2 separate regions of the Homo sapiens genome follow, and region 1 is linked to region 2. Evidence: fine-mapped expression QTL. A gene starts in region 2. The other region holds a variant in brackets. All regions are shown on one strand. Distances are from middle to middle.

Region 1 (12,000 bases), 220 kb after region 2:
GCGTGTGATGTATTTAGACTTTCCACCCCAAAATCAGGTTAAAGTAAATCTAATCACCCTAATTATGGTGTTTCCTATATCTTTAATCAACTGCTCTGTGTATACAGCTACCCATGTGTGTGTGTCTATGTTTTTGCATTGCTCAGAAAAGAATTCTTATTACTGGGCCAGTAGAGTTGTCTCTAGTTGTTCTTGTTACCTAAGAGCTCCAGAGTGCTAATACTAGTCAGCCAGTGGAGATCTTTTAGTTCACTTATTGACTGTTTATGTGCTAGGAGCTGAAGGCAGATGAATAGGATAGCTTCTCCATTCTGAGGCATTAAGAGTTAGTAATGGTTATTTAAAAACAACCAGTGTTTCAACACTCCCTTACGTATCTGCTTCAAGGGGTCAGAATAGCTGAGGGAAGGAATTCTGAGCATATGTTAGTAGAGTGTAGGGGTAGAGTATTGGCCCTGGAGGCAAACAGCCTGGGATCACATCCTTACTTCTCTACTAACTAGTCAGGTGGCCTTGCACAAGTAATTTCACCTCTCTATACTCAGTCTTCTGTAAAGAGAGGATAGCAATAATATTTACCTCATGAGATTGTTATAAAAGTTAAATAAGTTTTATTTGTAAAGTCTTTGGAACACTACCTAGACTATGGTAAGCATTTAATATATATTAGCTATTATTATTATTTGGGACAGAGGATTGGCAAGTGGCATTAATGGGGTGATGAGCAGAGTGCAGAGCCCAGAGGGAGACTTTAGAGCAGGGGTGTCCAATCTTTTGGCTTCCCTGGCCACATTGGTAGAAGAATTGTCTTGGGCCCCACATAAAAGACACTAACTCTAATGATGGCTGATGAGCTAAAAAAAAACACAAAACTCATAATGTTTTAAGAAAGTTTACGAATTTGTGTTGGGCTGCATTCAAAGCCGTCCTGGGTGCCTGTGGGTTGCGGGTTGGACAAGCTTGCTTTACAACATCTTTTTTTTTTTTTTTTTTTTAGAGACAGGATCTTGCTCTCTCACTCAGGCTGGAGTGCAGTGGTGCAATCATAGCTCATTGCAACCTCAAAATCCTGTGCTCAAGCAATCCTCCTGCCTCAGCCTCACAAGTAGCTACAGGTGCATACCACCACACCAGGTTCGAGCAATTTTTTTTTTCTTTTTTTTTTGGGATAGAGTCTCACTCTGTAGCCAGGCTGGAGTGCAGTGGTGCAATCTTGGCTTACTGCAACCTCTGCCTCCTGGGTTCAAGCGGTTCTCCTGCCTCAGCCTCTCGAGTAGCGGGACTACAGGCGCACGCTACGACGTCCAGCTAATTTTTGTATTTTTAGTAGAGACAGGGTTTCACCATGTTGGCCATGATGGTCTCTATTCTTGACCTCATGATCCTCCCACCTTGGCCTCCCAAAGTGCTGAGATTACAGGCGTGAGCGACTGCACCTGGCCCCGGCTCGAGCATGTTTAAGACAAGTTTTCTCTTCACTTTGCCTCTCTCATTCTCTCCTTTTCCTTTACTCTCCCCTCCACTTCCTCTTCCTCTCTCCTTCCCTAACAATTTAGCCCCAAATCCATTAAGTAGGGCCAAGGAGAGCAGATATTGGTTTTGGATGGTCTGAAACTAGATGTTGGAGTTGGCTTCTCCATGGGTAGGTGCCCACCCACCATGGTGGAGCATAGCTGGCATGGAGAGGGCAGGTATTTACATAGGGGGATAGTGGCAGTGGTCCAGGACAGGATATAAGAGACTGAGCATTGGGGGGCAGATGAGGGGGTGAGGACGGTGGAGGTGGGAGTCACAAGGGTAGGCGACAGGAGCAAGGATGGAAGACTTTACAAATACGTAGAAATTAAACAGCATACTCCTAAATAATCAATGGGTCACAGAAGAAATCAAGAAAAAATCAAAAGGAAAATTAGAAAGTACTTTGACATGAATGAAAATAAACAACATACCAAAACTTATGGAATGCAGCTAAAGCAATGCTTAGAGGGAAATTTATAGCTGTCAACACTTATGCCAAAAAAGATAATATCAAATCAATAACCTAACCTTTTACCTTAAGACACAGAAAATAGAAGATCAAAGTCAACCCAAAGCAAGCAGAGGGAAAGAAATAATAAAGATTAGAGTAGAAATTAATAAAATAGAGAATAGAAAAACACTACAGAATATTATTGAAATAAAAGTTGTTTTTTCGAAAAGATGAACAAAGTTGACAAACCTACAGGTAGACTAAGAGCAAAAAGAGAATACTCAAATTACTAGAATCAGAAATGAAAGGTGAGACATTAATATTGATGTTACAGAAATGAAAGGATTATGAAGGAATACTATGAACAATTGTATGCCAATAATAGATAACATAGATAAAATGAACAATTCCTAGAATAACACATACTACCAAAACTGACTCAAGAAGAAACAGTGAACCTAAATAGACCTATAATAAGTTTGGATATTGAATTAGTAATAAAAAAAGTTCCCACAGAGAAAAGCCCAGGCCCAGATGGCTTCACTGCTGAATTCTACTAAAGGTTTAAAGAAGGCTGGGCACAGTGGCTCACACCGGTAATACTAGCATTTTGGGAGGCCAAGGTGGGTGGATCACTTGAGGTCAGGAGTTTGAGACCAGACTGACCAACATGGTGAAACCCTGTCTGTACTGAAAAAATATAAAAATTAGCCCAGAGTGGTAGTGAGCACCTGTAATCCCAGCTACTTAAGAGGTTGAGGCAGGAAAATCACTTGAACCCAGGAGATGGAGGTTGCAGTGAGCCAAGATTGGCCAGTGCGCTCCAGCCTGGGCAACAGAGTGAGACCATTTCTCAAAAAAAAAAAAAAAAAAAAAAAGGTTTAAAGAAGAATTAATACCAATTCACCAATTCTACCAAAACCAGACAAAGGTGTCACAAGAAAACTATAGACAGGGTGGACATGGTGGCTCATGCCTGTAATCCCAATGCTTTGGGAGGCAAAGGAGGGTGGATCACCTGAGGTCAGGAATTCGAGACCAGGTTGGCCAAGATGGTGAAACCCTGTCTCTACTAAAATACAAAAATTAGCCGGGCGTGGTGGTGCATGACTGTAGTCCCAACTCCCGACTACTCAGGAGCTTAAGGCAGGAGAATCGCTTGAACCTGAGAGACAGAGGTTGCAGTGAGCCAAGATTGTGCCACTGCACTCCAGCCTGGGTGACAGAGCAAAACGCTGTCTCAACAACAACAACAACAAGAAAACTGTAGACCAATATCTCTTATGAATATAAATGCAAAAATCCTCAACAAAATTCTAGCAAACTGAATGTAGCACGTCTAAAAATAATTATATACCATGACCATACGGGGTTTATTCCAGAAATGCAAAGTTGGTTTCATATAAAAAATCAATATAATATACTATATCGATAGAGTAAAAAACAAAACCACATCACTGTTTCAACAGATGCAGAAAGAGCATGTAATAAAATCCAATGTCCTTTCATAATAAAAATGAGCTAGAAGGAAACTTTCTTTTTTTGAAACAGGGTCTCACTTTGTCACTGGAGTGCAGTGGCATAATCTTGGCTCACTGCAGCCTCAACCTCTGGGTTCAAGTGATTCTCTGGCCTCAGCTCCCCAAGTAGCTGGGACTACGGGCGTGTATTACCATGCCCAGATAATTTTTGTATTTTTCGTAGATACAGGATTTCACCATGTTACCCAGGCTGGTCTCTAACTCCTGAGCTCAAGTGATCTACCCACCTCGGCCTCCCAAAGTGCTAAGGTTACAGGTGTGAGCCACCACGCTTAGCCTTGAAGTAAACTTTCTTAACTTAATACAAGGCATCTATGAAAACTCCACAGCTAACTTTTTACTAAAGGATAAAAAAATTATATGTTTTCCTCCTAAGATCAGGAACAAGACAAGGATGCCTGCTCTCATCACTTCTATTCAGTTTTATATTGAAGTTTCTCACCAGTGCAATTATGCAAGAAAAAAAAAGTATCCAGGTTAGAAAGGGGGAAATAAAACTGCCTCTATTTGCAATGATATGGTCTTGTATATAGAAAATTCTAAAGAATCCACCAATACACAAGGTCATCAAGGTTAAAAAATATAAAATCAATGTACAAAAATCAATTGTATTTCTATAAACTTGCAATACATAAGCCAAAAAATCTCATTTATAATAGCATCAATAAGAACAAAATATTTGGGAATGAATTTAACAAAAAAAGTACAAAATATATACTCTGAAAACTAAAAACAATTGTTGAAAGAAATACAGATAGAAATAATTGGGAAAACATCTTATGTTCATGGATCAGAGGCTTAATATTGTTAAGATGGCAGTATTACCCAAACTTATCTACAGATTCAGCATAATCTCTATGAAAATCCTAGCTGACTTCTTTGTAGAAATTTATAAGCTGATTCTAAAATTCATGTGGAAGTTCAAAGAATTCAGAAGAGCCAAAAAACTCTTGAAAAGGAAGAGCAAAGTTGGAAGGACTCACACTTCACAATTGTAAAACTTATTACAAGGCAACAGTAATCAAAAAAGTGTAGTACTGACAAAAGGATAGATATATAGATTAATGGAATAAAATTGAGAGTTGAGAAATTAACTCGTGCCTGTGATCAACTGATTTTCAACAAGGGTGCCAAGATAATTCGATGGGGTAAAGAAATCTTTTCAACCAATGGTGCTAAGATAACTAGATAGCCACATGCAAAAGAATGAAGTTGGACACTTACCTCACACCATATACAAAAATTAACTCAAAAGGGACAAACGACCTAAATGTAAGAGCTAAAGCTACATATCACTTAGAAGAAAACAGGGGAGTAAATCACTATGAGTTTGGATTTGGCAAAGGATCCTTAGTTATGATACCAAGAGCATGAGGAGCAAAAAGATAAATAGATAATTTGGACTTCATTAAAATTAAAAACTTTTGTGCTTCAGAGAATGCCATCAAGAGATTGAAAAGATAACCACAAAATGAGAAGAAAGTATTTGCAAATCATATATCAGATAAGGGGCCTGTATTCAGAATATATGCTGTGGTTTGAATATTTGACTCCTTCAAAACTGATGTTGAAACTTAATCCCCAATGTGGTACTATTGAGAGGTGGGGCCCTTAAAAGATGATGGAATAATAAGGGCTCTGCCCTCATGAATGGCTTAATCCATTCATGGATTAATGGATTAATGGGTTATCATGGGAGTGGGGCGGGTGGCTTTGTAAGAAGAGGAAGAGAGACCTGATCTATCATGCTCAGCCCCCTCGCCATGTGATGATGCTTGTGCTGCCTCAGGACAGGACTCTGCAGAGAGTCGCCACCTGCAAGAAGGCTCTCACCAGATGTGGTCCCTCAACTTTGCACTTCTTTTTTTTTGAGACAGGGTTTCACACTTGTTGCCCAGGCTGGAGTGCAATGGCACGATCTTAGCTCACTGCAACCTCTGCCTCCTGGGTTCAAGTGATTCTCCTGCCTCAGCCTCCCAAATAGCTGGGATTACAGGCATGCACCACCACTCCTGGCTAATTTTTTGTATTTAGTAGAGATGGAATTTCACCATGTTAGTCAAACTGGTCTCAAACTCCTGACCTCAGGTGATCCACCCACCTCGGCCTCCCAAAGTGCTGGGATTACAGGCATGTGCCACTGTGCCTGGCCCTCAGCTTTGGACTTCTCAGCCTCCATAACTGTAATAAATAAACTCATTTTCTTTATAAATTACCCAGTTTCAGATATTCTGTTATAAGCAACAGAAAATGGACTAAGACAGGTAATTATGTTTTTTGTTATTATTTTTAAATGGCAAAAACTACACTAACTTTTGCATCAGCCTAATACAAATGGCTAATCATCTCATGAAAAGATGTTCAATAGCATTAGTCATCAGGGAAATACAAATCAAAACCACAATGAGCTATTATTTCACATCCACTAAGATGGCTAACCTTAAAAAAATTCAGATAATAACAAGTGTGGGTGAGGATATGGAGAAAATGGAACTCTCATCCACTGTTGGTGAGAATGTAAAATGGTGTGACCACTTCAGAAAACCGTCTGTAAGTTTCTCAAACAATTAAACATAGAGTTAGTTACCGTATGAACCAGCAATTCTACTCCTAGGTATATACCCAAGAGAAATGAAAACCTATGTACACACAAAACCTTGTACACAAATATTTATAGTAGCAGTGTTCCTGATAGTCAAAAGGTGAAAGCAACTTAAATATCTGTCAACTGATTAGTTAATAAACAACGTGTGATATATTGATAAAATGGAATATTTGTCCATAAAAAGGAATAAAATACTGAGACGTGCTACAACACTGATGAATTTTGAAAACTATGTTAAGTGAAGGAAGGCAGTTACAAAGGACCACCACATATTATATAATTCCACATGTATGAATGTCCAGACCAGGCAAATCTAGACAGTAAATTAGTTGTTGCTTAGGAGTTGAGTTGTTGCTTATGTGTGGAGGAGGCTGGGGAAGTGACAGCTAACAGGTATGAGACTTCTTTTTGAGGTGACGAAAATGTTCTAAAATTTTGTGAGGTCTGCACGCATTTGTGAATGTGGTATAAAACTATTCACTTGTACACTTTAAATGGGTAAGTTGTATGTTTCAATTTATGTCTCAATGAAGGTATTAAATAAGAGGAAAATGGCAATTAAATGGAGCAAGTTATTTTGGATTGGATCTTTTTTTTGGGATGGGGTCTTGCTATGTTGCCCAGGCTGGCATGCAGTGGCTACTCATGGGCACGATCATTGCACACCATAGCCTTGAACTCCTGGCCTCTAGAGGTCCTCCTGCCTCTGCCACCTGAGTAGCTAGGACTACAGGTGCTTGCCACCTCACCTGGCTTGGATCTTTTTGTAATAAATGACATTATTGGGACAATTGGGGTAATTTGAATGGTGTCTGGGGATTAGATGCTACCAGTGTATCAGTGTTAATTTCTTAATTGTTTAATTTTATTTTTAATTTTTTTTTTTTAGAGACACGGTCTCTCTTTGTCACCCAGGCTGGAGTGCAGTGGCATGAGTATAGCTCACTGTAGCCTCGAATTCCTGGGCTTAAGCCATCCCCCCACGTCAGCCTCCCAAGTAGCTAGGACTACAGGTGCATACCACCATGCCCAGCTAATTTCTAATTTCTTTTTGTAGAGACATGGTCTCGCTATGTTGCCCAGGTTTGTCTTAAATTCCTGTCCTCAAGCAATCCTGCTGCCTTGGCCTACCAAAGTGCTGGGATTACAGGCGTGAGCCACTGCGACCTGGCAATTTCCTGATTTTGATGGTTGTATTTCAGTTTTGCAGGAGAATATCCTTGTTTGTAGGAAATGCACACTGAAGTATTTGTTGATGATGGGGCATCATGGTAAGTAACTTAGTCTCAAATGTCCAGGAAAAAAAGTGGGTTTTTTTTTTTTGCAACTTTTCTCTATGTTTAAGTTTGTTTCAGAATAAAAATATAGACTGGGCAAGGTGGCTCACACCTGTAATCCCAGCA[CTTT/T]GGGAAGCCAAGGCGAGCAGATCACCTAGGGTCAGGAGTTCGAAACCAGCCTGGCCAACATGGCAAAACCCTGTCTCTACTAAAAATACAAAAATTAGCTAGGCGCAGTGGTAGGTGCCTGTAATCCCAGCTACTTGGGAGGCTGAGATGGGAGAATCGCTTAAACCTGGGAGGTGGAGGTTGCAGTGAGCCGAGATCACACCATTGCACTCTAGCCTGGGTGACAGAACGAGACTCTGTCTCAAAAAAAAAAAAAAAAAAAAAGTATATATATACACACACACACACACACACACACTTTGTAAAATACTTGATTTAATTTTGAAGTATGAGGGTAGAGATGGAATGTTGGGTTATCAGCAGCCACAGGGAACAAGGAGGCTGGTGAATTGATAGTCCACGATCCAGCCTGCCTATGGTGGGGGTGAGGGTGGTACTATCCTTTAGCCAGTTGCATTAGGCTTGACTAGTTTTTATAAGATTTCCAATTGCCATCAATTTATATGGAGTTTATACTCTAAAGCAATAACACTGATTTTGAGAAAGAAAAGGTAATTTCTGCTTAATACAATAAATGAGAAATAATTGAAGAAATAATTTCTTTGGAAAAGAATGCTTCTTTATTGATGGTTATATTTATCAGCAAGGATCATGACTCAGTAGCCAGTTGAAGGAATCAGAACACTTTGGGTACATGCTGCTAAAAGCCCGTCAGCTCGTCATCCTTGTTTTTGTCAACCTGGTATCCAGTAAGTACCAAGTCCTCATTTTGTCCGGGAAGACTTTTGAATACTTTCAAGTGCATATATTTATTATCACCTGCTCGTACCTGAAAAATATTAAAGAAAGAGAAAGCAAAAGGAGATTCATTCAAATGGGTCTACATCAAGTGAGAGAGCCACAGGTCTACAAAGACTTCTGTCCAAAAAGCTGCTGAGGAACAGCATTGCTAGACCTAGTCCACCATTCTTAGACTCTTTGTATTCATAAATCCACCACCTTATTTTAGGAGAAAAAGAGCAGACTAGGCTGGGTGCCGTGGCTCCCACCTGTAATCCTAGCACTTTGGGAGGCTGAGGCAGGGGGATCACGAGGTCAGGAGTTCAAGACAAGCCTGGCCAGCATGGTGAAATCCCGTCTCTACTAAAAATACAAAAAATTAGCCGGGCATGGTGGTGCATGCCTGTAATCCCAGCTACTCTAGAGGCTGAGGCAGGAGAATCACTTGAACCCAGGAGGAGAAGGTTGCAGTGAGCCGAGATCATGCCACTGTACTCCAGCCTGGGTGATAGAGCAAGAGTTTGTCTTAAAAAAAAAAAAAAATTGTAGACTAATGGCATGGCAAGAGGCATAGGTCCTAGGTTTATTTTGTTATTTTTTTTAGTATAATCTGGGCACAAAGGACAGCATTTTATTTTCAAAGATGCATGGAGCAAGAAAACAAGTGATAGCCTATATTTTTGGTGATACTGTTTTCTGACTCTCAACTTGGGACACTTTGTTTGCCATACAGTCTGATAAGGGAGAAGAAAATCAGAATTGCCCTAGAAAATTTGGGATGCAGGGTTCCCATACCTATATCAGAACCTACTTTATAAACACCCACTGGTAGGATTGAGCAGAGCCCAGGGGGCGGACACCCTCCCTTCTAAAGTGAAGGGGCCAGCCGGGCACTGTGGCTCACGCCTATAATCCCAGCACTTTGGGAGGCCAAGGTGGGTGGATCACCTGAGGTCAGGAGTTTGAGACAAACCTGGCCAACATGGTGAAATCTGGTCTCTACTAAAAATACAAAATTAGCTGGGTGTGGTGGTGCACATCTGTAATCCCAGCTACTTGGGAGGCTGAAGCAGGAGAATCGCTTGAATCCGGGAGGTGGAGGTCGCAGAGAGCCGAGATTGTGCCACTGCACTCCAGCCTGAGTGACAGAGTGAAACTCCGTCTCAAAAAAGAAAAGAAAAAAAAAAGCTAAGGGGTTTTACTAGGAAGTCATTGGTAGGAAGGTTGAAGCAGAAGCAGTAGTTTGGACATGAATCTGAGACCTGGAAAATTATGGTAAGAATTTTTACTTTGGTTCTTGCTGGAGACAATAAATGCTTTGTCTTATACAAATATTTATTGTGCTTCTGATGTCACTTCCTATCCTAATTTTAACAAATGCCATATATCAAATGTTTACTGTGAGCCAGACACTATGATGAACATTTTATATAAATGATTATATTAACCTATATTATAGGCCTGAAGAAAAGTGGAGCAATGAAATTTTTACAGACGTGGAAGCAGAGTAGGAGAGATTAAGTGATTTTCCATAAATCTCTCAGCTAGTCAGTGGCACAGCCAATATTCAAACCCAGATCTGTTAGCCTCTAGCATCTACATTCTTTTCACTCTACAATGTAACATTTTTGGGGGGTACTGATCGGGGAATGAGGCCTGGCTCACAGTGCAGTGGTGCGATCGCAGCTCACTGCAACCTCAAACTCCTCGGCTCAAGTGATCCTCCTACCTCAGCTTCCCAAGTAGCTAGGACTACTGGTGTGCATCACCATGCCTAGGTAATTAAAACATTTTCTTTGTAGAGGCAGGGTCTTGCTATGTTGCCCAGAATGATCTCAAACTCCTGGCTTCAAGCTATCCTCCCACCTTGGCCTCCCAAAGTGTTCGGATTACAGGTATAAGCCACCACACCAGGCCAGTGTAACCTTGTAAAAGCTCTTATTTTGTGCTTTATATTAGAGGCAGCACAGCCAGTAGTTAAGCTCAGTCTATCTGGGTTCAAATCCTGACTCTGCTCTTGTAGTTGTGTGATCTTTTTAGTTTCTTCACCACCCTGGAACTCAGTTTTTTCGTTGGTAACCCAAGAGAAGTGATTGTACTTATCTCATAGATTTGTTGTGAGGATTAAATGAGATAAGCCCTGTTCTTAGAATAGTGCATAGTGAATTATAAGTGCTCAATAAATTTCCAGCTTATTTATTCCTCACAACACGCTGCGAAGTAGATTATTACCCTCATTGTGCAGATAAGGGAATGAAGGCTCAGAGAGGAGGAGGAGCTTCCCATAGAACAAATTGAACAAGGGTTCAAACCCAGGACACTCTGACACCTAAGCTTGTGGTCCTTCCATTCTACCACCTACCTCTTGATAGGTACTTGAAATACATAGAGAAGGTCACATCACTGGCAAGACCTTAAATCTAGAGTGCCTCAGAGCAAAGGGATCAACAGCCAGACTACCAGGAAGTAAAAGGGAACTGGGATCGGTGGCTGAGATCCAGTAGGAAAAGTTTGATAGCAGAAGGAAGAAAAGATGAGAGAGAGAGAGGAGACTGATTAAGAGAGGGCAAAAGGGTGGTCAAGGGAACAAATTTTCAAGCAGAAATTTTCAAGATAGTTATCTGATGAACTGTTGAAGAAACATGTGAGCTGGTAATATGTGAAATTTATGCATTTGAATTAATCATAAATTATTAAATATGTTAATGTTGATGGAATGTTTCCTATCTTTGCACATAATCATTTTTAACTGGAAAACTTTCTTTTCCAGCCATGAAGAAAGCAGATTGAGAATGGAGGAAATGGTGCCATTGTTTTCTGAGGATACAGCAGGGTCCTCTTTCACATGTGTCTCCCCGGGACCTGGTCGTTACTAGGAGCTCACATTTGGCAGAACAGGGCTGATCTGTGTACATAGCTCTGTACTGAAACTTTCTTATGCTGAGCTGACTAGCTCCACTTACTTCACTTACTTTTTTTTTTTTTTTTGCTGAAAAAATCTTTTAAAATGTTTATATTTTAATAGAAATATTTGTTAAAGAGAAATAAGCCACACTGTGCCCTGGTCAAATAGTGAAGTAAAGATTAAGTAAATATACTTGAATATTTGTTTTTATTTTTAAAATCAGCATTATCATCTTCTTAATATATAAGGACAAACATGGCTCTCAAATATTCATGGTTGACTTGTTCAACTGGTTTCCTCTTGATAACTTCAATTAGAACTCGATCAATGCATTGTGTAATTTTTTGACAGAGCTATAAAATTAACTTTTAAACTATTTTAAATACTCCACTCTTTTAAACTATGCCTAGAGTGCCACAAGTTAAATCTAATTTGAGTTACAAAATAGTATTTACATTATATTAATTGAAGGGCAAAAAAGGTTTAAATTATTTTCCCAGCTAATGATTTGAGTCGTTACTTTAATTTATTTAATTTAGACATAGAGAATCATACAGCTTTGAGGTAGAATCAGCTTCAAGATACCATGTGGTCCAGCCCCACACCTTCAGGCAGATGAGACGTGATCCTCCCTCCTTACCTAAGCAGCAGCACAGCCACAAATCCAGCATGCCCTGAACTGTTATGAAATCTTTTTCTATACAATTTCCAGAAATCAAGAATCAATGTAATAAAACTTTCTGAATTCACAAGAAAAAAAATGGTGTCACATCATCTACCAAATTTGAGAGTCC
Region 2 (12,249 bases):
GGTGAAAAAGAAAGGTGACCTTAAAAGGAAGCAAAGTGACATTCCGAGCATCTAGCCTTCAGATAGACACAACGCCTCAAATTAAATCAGCTTATATAGTATTCATCTCGGATTCAAAAGCCCCCTGTCCTTTGGTGCAAAATTTAAATAACTCCATAGTACTTTATAGCTGGCAGGGTAGAAGTTGATGGGGACCAATCTTTCTGTCTTTGAGATTACCATCCCCGATCAGCAGCTCTCAAAACACCAATTCCACTGCTATAGAGTCTACTTATATCCACATCCAGAAATTGCCGTATTTCATAATCCCTATACTCTGTTGAGCAGCCATTACATCCCAAAAGGATCTCACATTTCTGGTCCTCCAAACCGGGATGTTTTGTGGTGAATATCATTCCAAGTGATGACATCTGAGACTCCTAATACGCGAGAGTACCCCACTGTAAAAATCAGCTTTTGGTCAAAGGCCCTATAAAGCAGTTTCAAAACCTTCCTTCCTTCCTTATTATCAGGCAAGTATGCAGTTCGCTGTATTCCAGGGTATCTCTTTCCTGGGTTTGGGTGTTCTTCCTGTGTGAGAACAAGAAAATGTCATGTGAAAAGAGTGCCCTGTCTAATTTTTACTATAGGTATAGATGTGTTCATTTGTAGATAAAGCAAATCAAAAGCAAGAAAGGTATTGAAGTTATGCTCATATTCCCAATAACTCATATTTCTCCTCTTTCCTTGAATTCATGCTGGAAACACTGTCCACCTTCCTGATACCCCCATCTCAAGATATAATCTCCACCCACCCTTTCTCTGTCTTAAGAAATAGACACAAAAGGTATTTGAATTACCAGCAAACATTGTGACCTTTACCACTATTTCAGTCCCTTGCACATGACCCTGGAGATAATTCCTTGGGAAATCTATTGTCTAATAGGCAACAGGACAGTCTCTTTTGCCCTGGTAATCGTAGCATAGTGGCAAGAAACCCATGGACTTGAGAAATACTTACTGTTTGTATGCCTGCTTTCATAGAATAAGTAATCACAATGGTGCCAAAGGACTCATAACCTGGAAGTGAGTCTCTTGAAACAGTGAAAACCATGCTTCCCTCTGGCTGATTTCCTTTCTGAATACCATAGGAAGTCTGGCATGTGGGACAGATTGGCTTATATGACATGGCTTTGTTGATACAAGGGGCGCAGAATTCATGCTTGCACTTTGGTAGCACTTTTTTGTTACTAATGGTGTCCATACAGATGACACAGATGCCCTTTTCCTTCTTGTCCAGTTCTGAGGCCTCAGAACTCACAGAGCCCTTGAGTGGCGGAGAAGCTGCTTTGGAATCATCGCTATCAATGTCCATCGGTGTTTCATGACCCTCTTTCAATTTCTTTCCAGCCAATGAAGACATTCCTCCTCCTTTTAGAACATACTGCTTCGCCTTTGCAAGGTGATTTGGCAAACCAGTCAAAGTCATTGACTCTTGATTTAGCACAAAGTGTACATTTGGATGTCTTTTTCTAAAGTCATCAGCAAACTTGGTCTGATGTAAGTGCTTTCTCTCCTTGCCCAAAGACTTCAGTAAAAGAACTTCTCTCATCAACTGACATGAGGCATGTTGAAAGGCATCGATGAAACTTGCATAAGCATGCACAGATAGATCTACCTGCCTGTCCTTGGATTCAAACAGAATGCAGGTTTTCTGACCTTTCTCAGAAACCTTGCTGCAAATGTCATACCTTTTTTCGATCTCTGATATCTCCTGTAGTAATTCAGTTTCTAAAAGTTTATAGTGGGCACTATCAACCTCAATTACATTCATCATGTAATTGGCAGCAAATAGTTTCACAGGTATCTTGACAAAAGCTTCAGAGATTTTTTGTTTGGCAGCTGAAATGTCATCTTGGGTCCCAAGGAGAGTTAATTCGCCTCCTTTCTCCTTTATAAGGAGCTTTGTAAACTGGTGATTCAATTCCTGTTTGAATTTATTTGCCTGCTTACTGTCTGCTAAAGAGACACATTCTTGCTTCAGAGGTTCTGTGTTCTTCTGAAATTCACTAGCAAAAGACTCACGAGCTGCTTCCAGGTCACCTGATCGACTTGAGGTGAAATCTAAACAGACCATATTTGGAGAACTCTCCTGGATTTCAATGTTTACACCAAATCTTTTCTCTATTGAGTTGATTTTATCAGGACAGATATATTTAAAGTATTCAAAGTAAGGCAAGGGAACTTCAAAATAGTTGCTTTTTTGTTCTGCCTTGGTTTCTGGTTCAGAAGGAGAAATGCAGCTGTCCCTCTCCTGCTGACTGAGTGGCTTCCTCTCTGTCATTGAAGGGGAAAATTGTTGTTTCTGCTCACTTTCCAGGAACTGCTCACTCAAAAATTGATGTATTCTTTCAATGTCTTGGAAGTCACCACACACCTTCTCAATTCCATCGTGACCTTCCATTTTTCTGATACTAGGGCACAGTGTGGTTATGTATGCCCTCTGCTCTTTGGAGAACAGGTTACAGTTCAGGTCAGCTGTTACAGTAAGAAAGATCTGAAATTTTAAAAGGAACAGGAACAAATAAAACCTCTCAGCATGCAGGCCTACCATCTTCTCTTCAGGAGAATGCATAGAGACTAGAGAAACAACCACTACATCTTTCCCAAGTGGGGGCAACTTCTTTCAAATCCTATTTATTTATTTATTTATTTATTTATTTATTTATTTATTTCAAGATGGAGTTTCACTCTTGTTACCCAGGCTGGAGTGCAATGGCGCGATCTCAGCTCACTGCAACCTCCGCCTCCCGGGTTCAAGCAATTCTCCTGCCTCAGCCTCCTGAGTAGCTGGGATTATAGGCATGTGCCACCACGCCCGGCTAATTTTGTATCTTTAGTAGAGACGAGGTTTCTCCATGTTGGTCAGGCTAGCCTGGAACTCCTGACCTCAGGTGATCCACCCACCTCAGCCTCCCAAAGTGCTGGGATTACAGACATGTGCCACCGTGCCTGGTCTCAAATCCTTTTTAGAGGATACAGCACGCTACATCCCAGAGGTTCTCAGCCCTGTCTGCATATAAGACTCACCTGGCGAATTCAGGGAAAAACAAACCAGCCAAAGCCCAAGCACATCCCCAGAGATTCTGATGTTAACTAATCTGCAGTGGAGCCTGGGCATGAGCATTTCTAAAAGCTCCATGGCCAAGAGATCCGTGTTCTACAACTGCCACTAGCTGTTTGATCTTGGGAACAGCAGTCAAGGGAAGGCACCTGTGCTCTCTGGGCAAGTTGTTGTGGCCCTCACAAAAGTTTGTGAACTTGGAAGGGAGCCATAAAACTGAGGGCAATGGCTTTTCCTATTACTATTTTTTCTCTTCTTCACTCTTCCTCCTTTATTCTTGTTTCAACTAAACACTCGACTGCATGCAAAGTTGTGGACCCTTCTAAACCCTGGCCTTTAGAAGCTCAAATATAAGACACGCCAGGTTAAGATAAAAAGGACAGAGACCAATTGACTGTAATATAAAAGCAAAATTCCTAATGTTTTGTTCCTTCTCAAGGACTTTGCATGTTAAGATCCTTCCTCTAGATCTTCAAAATGTTTCCTGAATCCAGCCATTTCTCACACCTCCATCAAGGCCACCAAAGTGCATGCCATTATCATCTTTCACCTGGCGCACTGCAACCCCTCCTAACCAGGCTCTAACTCTCCATTCTATCCCCTTTCTACGTTCAGTTTTCCAACAGCAGCCAGAGTGACCCTTTAGAAATATAAACCAGATCGCCCTCTCCCCTGGCTCAAAACTATCTGATGAATCCCCTAACATTTTAAGTTAAAAATCCAAAATCCTTACCTTCAGCCCCAAAGGCCTGTCTTCTGGGTACCTTCCCGAGTTCCTAGCACCTCTCTCCATTGCTCACTGCCCTCCCCACCACACTGGCTTCCTTAAAGCTTCTGGGCCTCAAAATGTCAGCTCTTGGGGACTTTGCACCTATGCTTCCCTCTAGGACACTTTCCGCCCAGAAATCCACTTGGCTAGAGATGTCACCTCACTTGAGGTTTTTCCAGACATCCTATTTTAAATGGTGGTTCTGTCACTGTCTGTCACTTATTCTTCTTCCTAGCAGGTATGACTGGCAGACATTTTATTATATATCTATTGTTTACTAATATTGTCTGTTTCTCTCTCTAGAAGGTGCCGTCCCTGGAAGCCGAGTCTGCCATGTTCCTGGCTGCCTCCCCAGCTCCTATAACAGTGCCTGGAACACAGTAGGCAGTGGATATCTATTGTTGAATGAATCTTGTCATCATTCAAGTTTCAGGCCAAACATCACCTCCTCAGTCAAGTTGTCTCTGATTTCTGGTTAGAAGTAGCACCAGGCCAGGTGCAGTAATTCATGACTGTAATCCCAGCACTTTGGGAGGCCAAGGCGGGCAGATCGCTTGAGCCCAGGAATTTGAGAACAGCCTGGGCAACATAGTGAGACTCTGTTTCTACAAAAAAAAAAAAAATTGGCTGGGTGTAGTGGCGCCTATAGTCCTAGCTACTCAGGAGACTGAGGTGAGAGGATCCCTTGAGCCCAGGAGGTCAACTCTGCAGTGAGCCATGATTGTGCCACTGTACTCCAGCCTGGGCGATAAAGTGAGACTCTGTCTTGGGGGGAAAAAAAGAAGTAACACCACCCCCATCTTCCCCTTGCTTGCCCTGGCGCTGTTTCTCTCCAAATAAATAAAATGGTTTTATTTATTTTGTTTACTTGCCTACTGTCTTTCTGTGCATGACCTGGCCCCCAGTATAAGCTGCCTGAGAGCAGGGGCCTTGTCTGTTATATTCATCTCTGTGTCCAGTGCCTAAAACAGTGCCTGGCTCCCATGTACGTGCCCAGCACATGGGTGTTGGATCAATAATACATGAGGCTGGTGACTGGAGAGGAGGCGCAGGCACAGCCAGCTCCTTCTTTCAATACTCACCTTTTGGAGACAGGAATCCACAGCATTAGGAATATGTCCTTCATGTTGATGCATATCACCAGACGGTGTTTCTGCTTGTGATTGTGTCAGTGAAGAAATTTGAGGTCTCGTGTTCTTCTTTATTGAATTTTCAGTGGGTACCAGGAAAATGGGCACAGGTTTTTCGTCAACAAGTATTTGGTGCTCTCCTTTTTTCAACACTCTCTCCTTAGCTTCAGTGGAGACATTAAACACACACATATACACACATAAAAATGGGAGAGATTTCAAGTAATCCTCTCATTCCTGTGTCTGTACTCTGCCCCAGCACCTCCCAGTAAGGCTGCTCCCTGCATCCTGGAATGGTGGGTTGGCGATGGAGAAAGTCGGGGAGCTATTAAGAGCTCTAAAGTGTGCGGATTAAGTTTTACTATAGAAGTGAAAGCTTAATGACAATGGAACATTGTCCACCGATTAAACATCATGTTTCTAAAACTGTCTCCAGTCTCCCCTTTCCTTCTTCCTTCTTTCCCTCCCTCCCTCCCTTCCTTCCTTCTTTTTTTTTTTTTTTTTTTTTTTAGACGGAGTCTCACTCTGTCACCCAGGCTGGAGTGCAATGGTAGGACCTCGTCTCACTGCAACCTCTCTGCCTCCCGAGTTCCAGCGATTCTCCTGCCTCAGCCTCCAGAGTAGCTTGGATTACAGGTGCGCACCACCATGCCCGGGTAATTTTTGTATTATTAGTAGAGACGGAATTTCCCCATGTTGGCCAGGCTGGTCTCGAACTCCTGGCCTCAGGTGATCCACCAACCTCGGCCTCCAAAGTGCTAGGATTACAGGCGTGAGCCACCGCACCCGGCCCAGTCTCCCATTTCAATACTCATTATACAGGTAAGTGACAACAGCAGGAATCAAAAGTGCAGACTCCGAATTTTGTAAATATACATGTGTTTGCTGGCATTCATAAAAAAAGGCAGGAAGGAAATACACCAAATGGTCACATTGTTTATCTTCAGGTTGTTTTCTTTTTTACTCTTTTATTTCTATAGTGAGCATATATCACTTTTGTAATCCTCAAAAACACAAAATGGAACATCCTTTTGTTCATGGATGGAACAATGGAACCATTATTTAAAACATAAAAGTGGAATCCCTGAATGACAAGGACAGCAGCTGGCAGGCATCTGGGGGAAGGAAGATGACAGCTGAGAAATTAAGTTAGAATGAGGATATGGAAAGCATCCACACTAAGGCGCCGTCAGCCAGACCCGCACCAGGCACATGTGAGGCCCCATCCTCCACCGAGTGTTCACTGTCTCAGTGAGTCTCTTGGCAGTAGGGCCCCGTCCCTGTCCGCCACCGCACAGTGACATACTTTCTCCCGCCCTCTCCCCTAGGTCAGCTGGAACTGGGTCCGCCTGGAAACCCGGGGGCCGGGCCCCCAGAGGGCTTTCGCAGCCTGGCCGCCCGAAGCTCACCTGCCCTTTCACTGAACTCCACCCGGAAGGTGCCCGGGGCTTCGTGTTCCTGGGTGCTGACCGTGCACTCCCCGCCGCCCGAGGACTTAGAGCTCTGGAAGTAGCTCTCCAGCTTCCTTCGTACTCGGGGGCCGGACTTGTACACCCGCACGAGGAGCGGGGACGGCGGGCGCAGGTGGGAGGCCATGGCTCTGCGCGTCGGGAGGGCGCGGGGGCTCCGGGAGGCAGCTGGGCGGTAAAGGCGCGGCCCGCCCTGCGGACTGGGCGCAAAGTTTCAGTTTCGCTTCCCTGGAGGTCCCTCCCTGTTCCCGGCAGAGCCGCTTCCCCCTCCTCCCTGTGCTGTCTGCACCGAGGAGAGCGGCCTGCCGGGTGAGTAGGTCCGGTGCCTCTGGGCCCTCGGGGTCCCCTCTCCTGCAGGCTCGAGGTGGGCGGGGAGAAGGGGGACGGGCGCGGACCCGGGTCCCAGGGCCAGGCCTCCCTTGTGAGTAGACTATGCAAAGAAAGTAAGTTTCTCCTGTGTTTCTTATTCTTTGTAACTCTTACTGCTGTTACCACTATTATTTGATCCTAAAAAGTAATTCACATTCTGAATCCATGTTAAACTTACCCATTTTTGAAAATTTGAATGTGTTCATCTGGTAATTGTGACCTGTTACCCCTTCCCTCCCTCCAACTCTACCCTTTAGACGGGCTTCTGCGGGCTTTTCTCCTCCATTGCTTGATTTAACCAACAGCACTGAATTGTTTCTTGCTGCCCAAAGAGCAGAGCAAGGCCCTGATGTCAAGGGCTGGTGAGGGGAGGCGGACCTGTGAACCAAGGAGCAAAACTTCTCCAAGGCCTCCAAGGGGAAGTTTCAAGCAGAATCTTAATAAATTGAGTGTGGCGGCGAGATGGGGAGGACAGGATTGGGGGGAAAAGCACCTGAGGCTTAGGGACCACTGTGGTCTGAAGCACAGAGTGGGCCTGGGGCCTGGGAGGAGAGGAGATGGGTGAGGGGATGAAGGAGGGAGAGCCTACCTAGATGGGCACTGTCCAGCAGAAATACAATGGGAGCCAGTAGGTTCATTCTAAAATTTTTGCAGCCATATTTTTTAAAGGATAAAGAAACAGATGAAATTAATTTTAATGATTTTTAGGAAATTTTTAAAGGATAAAGAAACAGATGAAATTAACTGTAATGATGTTATTTAGCTTGACATATCCAAAACTTAATCATTTCAGCATGTAATGAGATTTTTACATTCTTTTTATCATACCACGTCTTTGCAACCCAGTGTTTTTCTTATACTTACATCACATCTCGATTCAGACTGGCCACATGTAGCCTCAGTAGCTATGTGAGGCTGATAGTCCACCCTGGACAGGACATATTTAGATGGTGAAAAGCCTTGAAGAGCAGTGAAGATGACCTGAAGGGCTTTAAGCAGGGAAAGCAAGAAAATGACTTGCCAGATTTGCATTTTAGAAATATGGTGCTGACAACCGTGTGGAGGACACATTTACAAGCAGGGATGAGTGGCGGCAGAGAGGCCTGAGATAAGGTTTTTGCACATGGCTGGTAAGACTGGAAATGGGCCCGTCTTTACTGTGAACAATTTGGCAATACTGTCAGAATTACAACTGCATATACTTTTTGGTTCTGGAGTTCCATTTCTAGGAATTTGTCCCATTGATATATTAGCCCCTGTGTGAAGTGACCTGTGTACAAAGATGTTCTTTACAGCCTTGTTTACAATAGCAAAAGATAGGGAACTCTTTAATGCCCATAAATAGGGGGACTAGCAGTTTAATAATAATAGTATATCTATACAATGGAATACAATGGGCAGTAGGAAAAATGAAAAAGCTCTCTATGTGCTAACATGAAAAGATCTCTAGGATACATTATGTGGGAAAAATAAGATGCAGAAGTGTGTGTATAAGCTACTACCTTTCGTGTAAAAAATGCCACTGGAAGAATACAGGAGAAGCGCTGATTGACTCTGGACAGGGAATTTAGCAGCGGAGACAGGAGGAAACCTTTTACATTTTCTAAATTTGAACCATGTAAATGTAATACCTATTCAAACAATAAAATGTCAAACTAGGTACATTTAAATCTTTGAAAAGAGTATATTGATGGCTGGGCGCGGTGGCTCACGCCTGTAATCCCAGCACTTTGGGAGGCCAAGGCAGGCGGATCATGAGGTCAGGAGATCGAGACCATCCTGGCTAACATGGTGAAACCCCGTCTCTACTAAAAAAAATACAAAAAAAAAAAAAATTAGCCAGGCGTGGTGGTGGGCGCCTGTAGTCCCAGCTACTAGGGAGGCTGAGGCAGCAGAATGGCGTGAACCCGGGAGGCGGAGCTTCCAATGAGCCAAGATCGCGCCACAGCCTGGGCGACAGAGTAAGACTCCGTCTCAAAAAGAAAAGAAAAGAAAAGAAAAGAAAAGAAAAGAAAAGAAAAGAAAAGAGTATATTGCCACAGCTCAGGCAAAAGTTGCTGAGACTCTGAAGTGAGGCAGTGTCAGTGGGCGAGGAAGGAAGGGGCATATTTGAAAGTGATTTAGTTTGTCAGGTCCCAGATATGAGACAAAAAAGACTCAGGGAAAGTTCCTAGATTTCTGATTTGAGTACGTAAATGGTATTATCATTTACTGAGCTGTAGAATCCAGGAGATAAAGTATGGATTTGGTGGGGGTGGGATGGAGGATTGGGGACCAGGAGATAAGAGGTCTACTTTTGCAGAGGCTAATTTGAGGGGACTGTGAGACCTCCAGGTGGAGTTGAAAAATGGGGCTCAGGAGAGCCATGGCCTAGAACTGCAGATATAAGAGTCATATTTGCAATTGGTGAGTTGAAGCCATGGAAATGGATGAGATCACTCCTGGGGAGTATGCAGAATGAGATGAAAAACGCCTTAGACAGAATCCTGGGGCAAACAATTAAGAGGGAGATGGTGGAAGTGAACGCAGGGAAAAGGCCTGTAAAGGCAAAGTGAAGGGTAATAGAAGAACCAAGGGAAGATGGCATAGGAGAAGCCAGGAAAGCAGAATTTCAGGAATCAAAGAGTGAAATACTATAGAAAGTGGTCCAGTAAAGATGGATAGAAGATAATCCATTGGCATTAACCACATGAGGGATTCTGATGAGCAGTTTCTCTTCTTTTTTTTGAGACAGGGTCTCATTCCTCTTGCCCAGGCTGGAGTGCAGTGGCACAATCACAGCTCACTACAGCCTGAACTTCCCACCAAGTGATCCTCCCATCTCAGCCTCCCAAGTAGCTGGGACTATAGGCATGCACCAACATGGCCAGCTAACTTTTTGTATTTTTAGTAGAGATGAGGTCTTGCCATGTTGCCCAGGTTGGTCTCGAACTCCTGAGCTCAAGCAATCTGCCTGCCTCTGCCTCCCAAAGTGCTGTGGTTACAGGTGTGAGCCGCCATGCCTGGCCACTGGCAGTTTCAAAAGGGTGCTGGGAATGAGGCAGGGAGCCAGGTTATAGTAGGCTGAGTGGGCAGGTGGACAGAAGGAGAGTCCACTACTCATTCCAGAAGTTTGGCTGCTTATGAAGAGAAGGAAACACAGTAGGAACCAGTGATGGAAAGTTGGGAAGGCTTTTCTGTTTTTAAAATGGAAGAAATGGAATGCTTAGGGCACTATGCTCCTTGTTTGGCTATCCATAGGCCTGTAAAACTTGGCCTGAAGACAGAAACAGGTGCAACATTTAAAGCAAAAGCCCATGGCCAAAGCAGATGAAGTCATCCTTCTTTTTTGAAAACAGCAGTGCCCTCTGGAGGCAAAAAATGCATCTTGTCTTTGCATTTTAGAATGCAAAGGATTGTACTAGACCTGCTGCTTTCCCTTGATGAGTAAGAATAGTGCTCTGATGCTGTAGATGGTTGTACAAAATGTTTCTATTGCAAAGACATTAGAAATCATTTCGACCAGGCGCGGTCGCTCACGCCTGTAATCCCAGCACTTTGGGAGGCCGAGACGGGTAGATCACGAGGTCAGGAGATTGAGACCGTGCTGGCTAACACGGTGAAGCCTCATCTCTACTAAAAATACAAAAAATTAGCTGGGCGTGGTGGCGGGCGCCTGTAGTCCCAGCTACTCAGGAGGCTGAGGCAGGAGAATGGCGTGAACCCAGGAGGCGGAGCTTGCAGTGAGCCAAGATCGAGCCACTGCATTCCTGGGGGACAGAGTGAGACTCCAACTCAAAAAACAAAAAAACAAACAAAAAAACAAACAAAGAAATCATTTCGAGGCCTAAATATAGCAACAAGTGTGGGCAACTGTATCTTTAAGCATTTTCATCATCAGTCTTCTAAAAATTCATAATCTTTAATTCCTACCTATTAGATGGAAAATCATAACAAAGTATTTTTCCCAGATTTTCTGACTTTTAACCAGATATACCCCTATCATTAGGTCAAGGATGTTTATCACAAATTCAATAATACACCCCCCTCACAGGCTCTAGTGGCATTTCCTCTTTCTTCAAACGCTCTCCAGGGGGCTTCACTCACTCATAAGCTCGGTCTTCTTTACTGTTCTTTGAATGCTGTTCTCAGTCTCACCACTTTGTTATCACCCTCTTCTTCTAAATATGTAAAAACCTCCTGCATCCTTCATGACCAGGCTCTAGTCTCAACTCCTCCATATAGCTTTTCCTGTTCCAGGTCGTAGAGCATTTTCCCTTCTCTGAACTGCCATTATGATTTCCACTGGAACCTCTCTTGGAAAGGGTAGAAGGCAAACAGTAACAACAACAGCAAAACAATGTGTACATCGTTATCAAGGAAATTAAGAACTCATCAAGATCAGAAATCATGTTCAGTCCTCCTACAGTATATTCTTACCGAATTTCCTAAGATTCTGGCTAATGTTTATTGCATCTTTTCTAATTCATTCCTAGAAGTGGGCCACCATATCTGGAAACTACAGTCTATGCTTTGAAGCGCAAAAGGGAATAAACATTTAAAGACTCCCCCGGGGACCTGGAGGATGGACTTTTCCATGGTAAAAAGCATAAATGTGTATACGTCATGAACCTTGATCAGCACATGAATACTTCTTTATATAACAGCAAGAAATCTGGGGTGTTCACCAACAGTTGACATCCTCATCTGCTTTTAATAGCTCAATAAAGTTTTCTCCTTTCTCCCTTCTTGAGAAATGGGGAATCAAGAATATGCTAATCTAATAAATAGTGTCAACTTGAAGCTGGATGATTTTTCAGAATCATTTTAATTCTCAGCTCATTTAGTGATTCTGCTTTTTCGGGTTGGGGTAAGGAGAGTAATAGAGGATGAATGAAAAGAAGGGAATAGAGAAAGATCAGATTAGAAGTCACTTACTAAACTTGAAAATTCCACATTAAGGTTTGTACCATGACAAAGGCAATTAAAAGTGGATCCTTGCTGGTGGATGAGAGACAGAGCTGATGAGGCTCATGTCCCCAGGTCTTCTGTCTAGAGAAACCCCATGAGCTTTTGGAGATTGGAGTCTATCTGAGAGTTTGGGGTCATTTTGGTCTGTGACTTTTGGGCCTTTTAAAGTGTTGATCTCTAAACCTCATCTCATTCTGAATTAGAATGAGATGCACTGAGATGCATTGGCGGTGGCTGGCGCCTATAATCCCAGTTACTACAGAGGCTGAAGCCAGGAGGATCACTTGAAATCAGTAGTTCGAGACCAGCCTGGTCAACATAGCAAGACTCCGCTCATCTCTAAAAAAGTAAAAACAATTAGCTGGGCATGGTGGTGCATGCCTGTAGTCCCAGCTATTCAGGAGACTGAGATGGGAGGATTGCTTCAGCCCAGGAGTTCAAGGCTGCAGTGAACTGTGA

What was found. PIP is the estimated chance that this variant, and not a neighbour inherited with it, causes the effect.
Region 1: its variant is the best candidate, but not a certain one, in a credible set for the expression of PARP9 in thyroid (GTEx, PIP 0.51).

The regions. Positions count from the first base shown.
Region 1 is chr3:122,337,789-122,349,788 of GRCh38, reverse strand. CSTA (cystatin A) reads right to left here. Exons shown (of 3, transcript NM_005213.4): 3 at 7,820-8,350. The coding sequence ends at 8,222. Among named protein-coding and RNA genes, the nearest start is that of CSTA, 19 kb to the right of the region's middle. The variant CTTT/T (reference allele first, on the strand shown) is at 7,519.
Region 2 is chr3:122,558,776-122,571,024 of GRCh38, reverse strand. PARP9 (poly(ADP-ribose) polymerase family member 9) reads left to right here and starts at 6,725. Exons shown (of 11, transcript NM_001146105.2): 1 at 6,725-6,780; 2 at 11,316-11,419. The coding sequence starts at 11,405. DTX3L (deltex E3 ubiquitin ligase 3L) reads right to left here and starts at 6,687. Exons shown (of 5, transcript NM_138287.3): 1 at 6,412-6,687; 2 at 4,955-5,166; 3 at 1,001-2,536; 4 at 353-570. The coding sequence starts at 6,598. LOC105374071 (a long non-coding RNA gene) reads right to left here. Exons shown (of 5, transcript XR_001740869.2): 5 at 11,055-11,135. RefSeq lists an enhancer at 6,680-6,799 and a silencer at 6,840-6,939.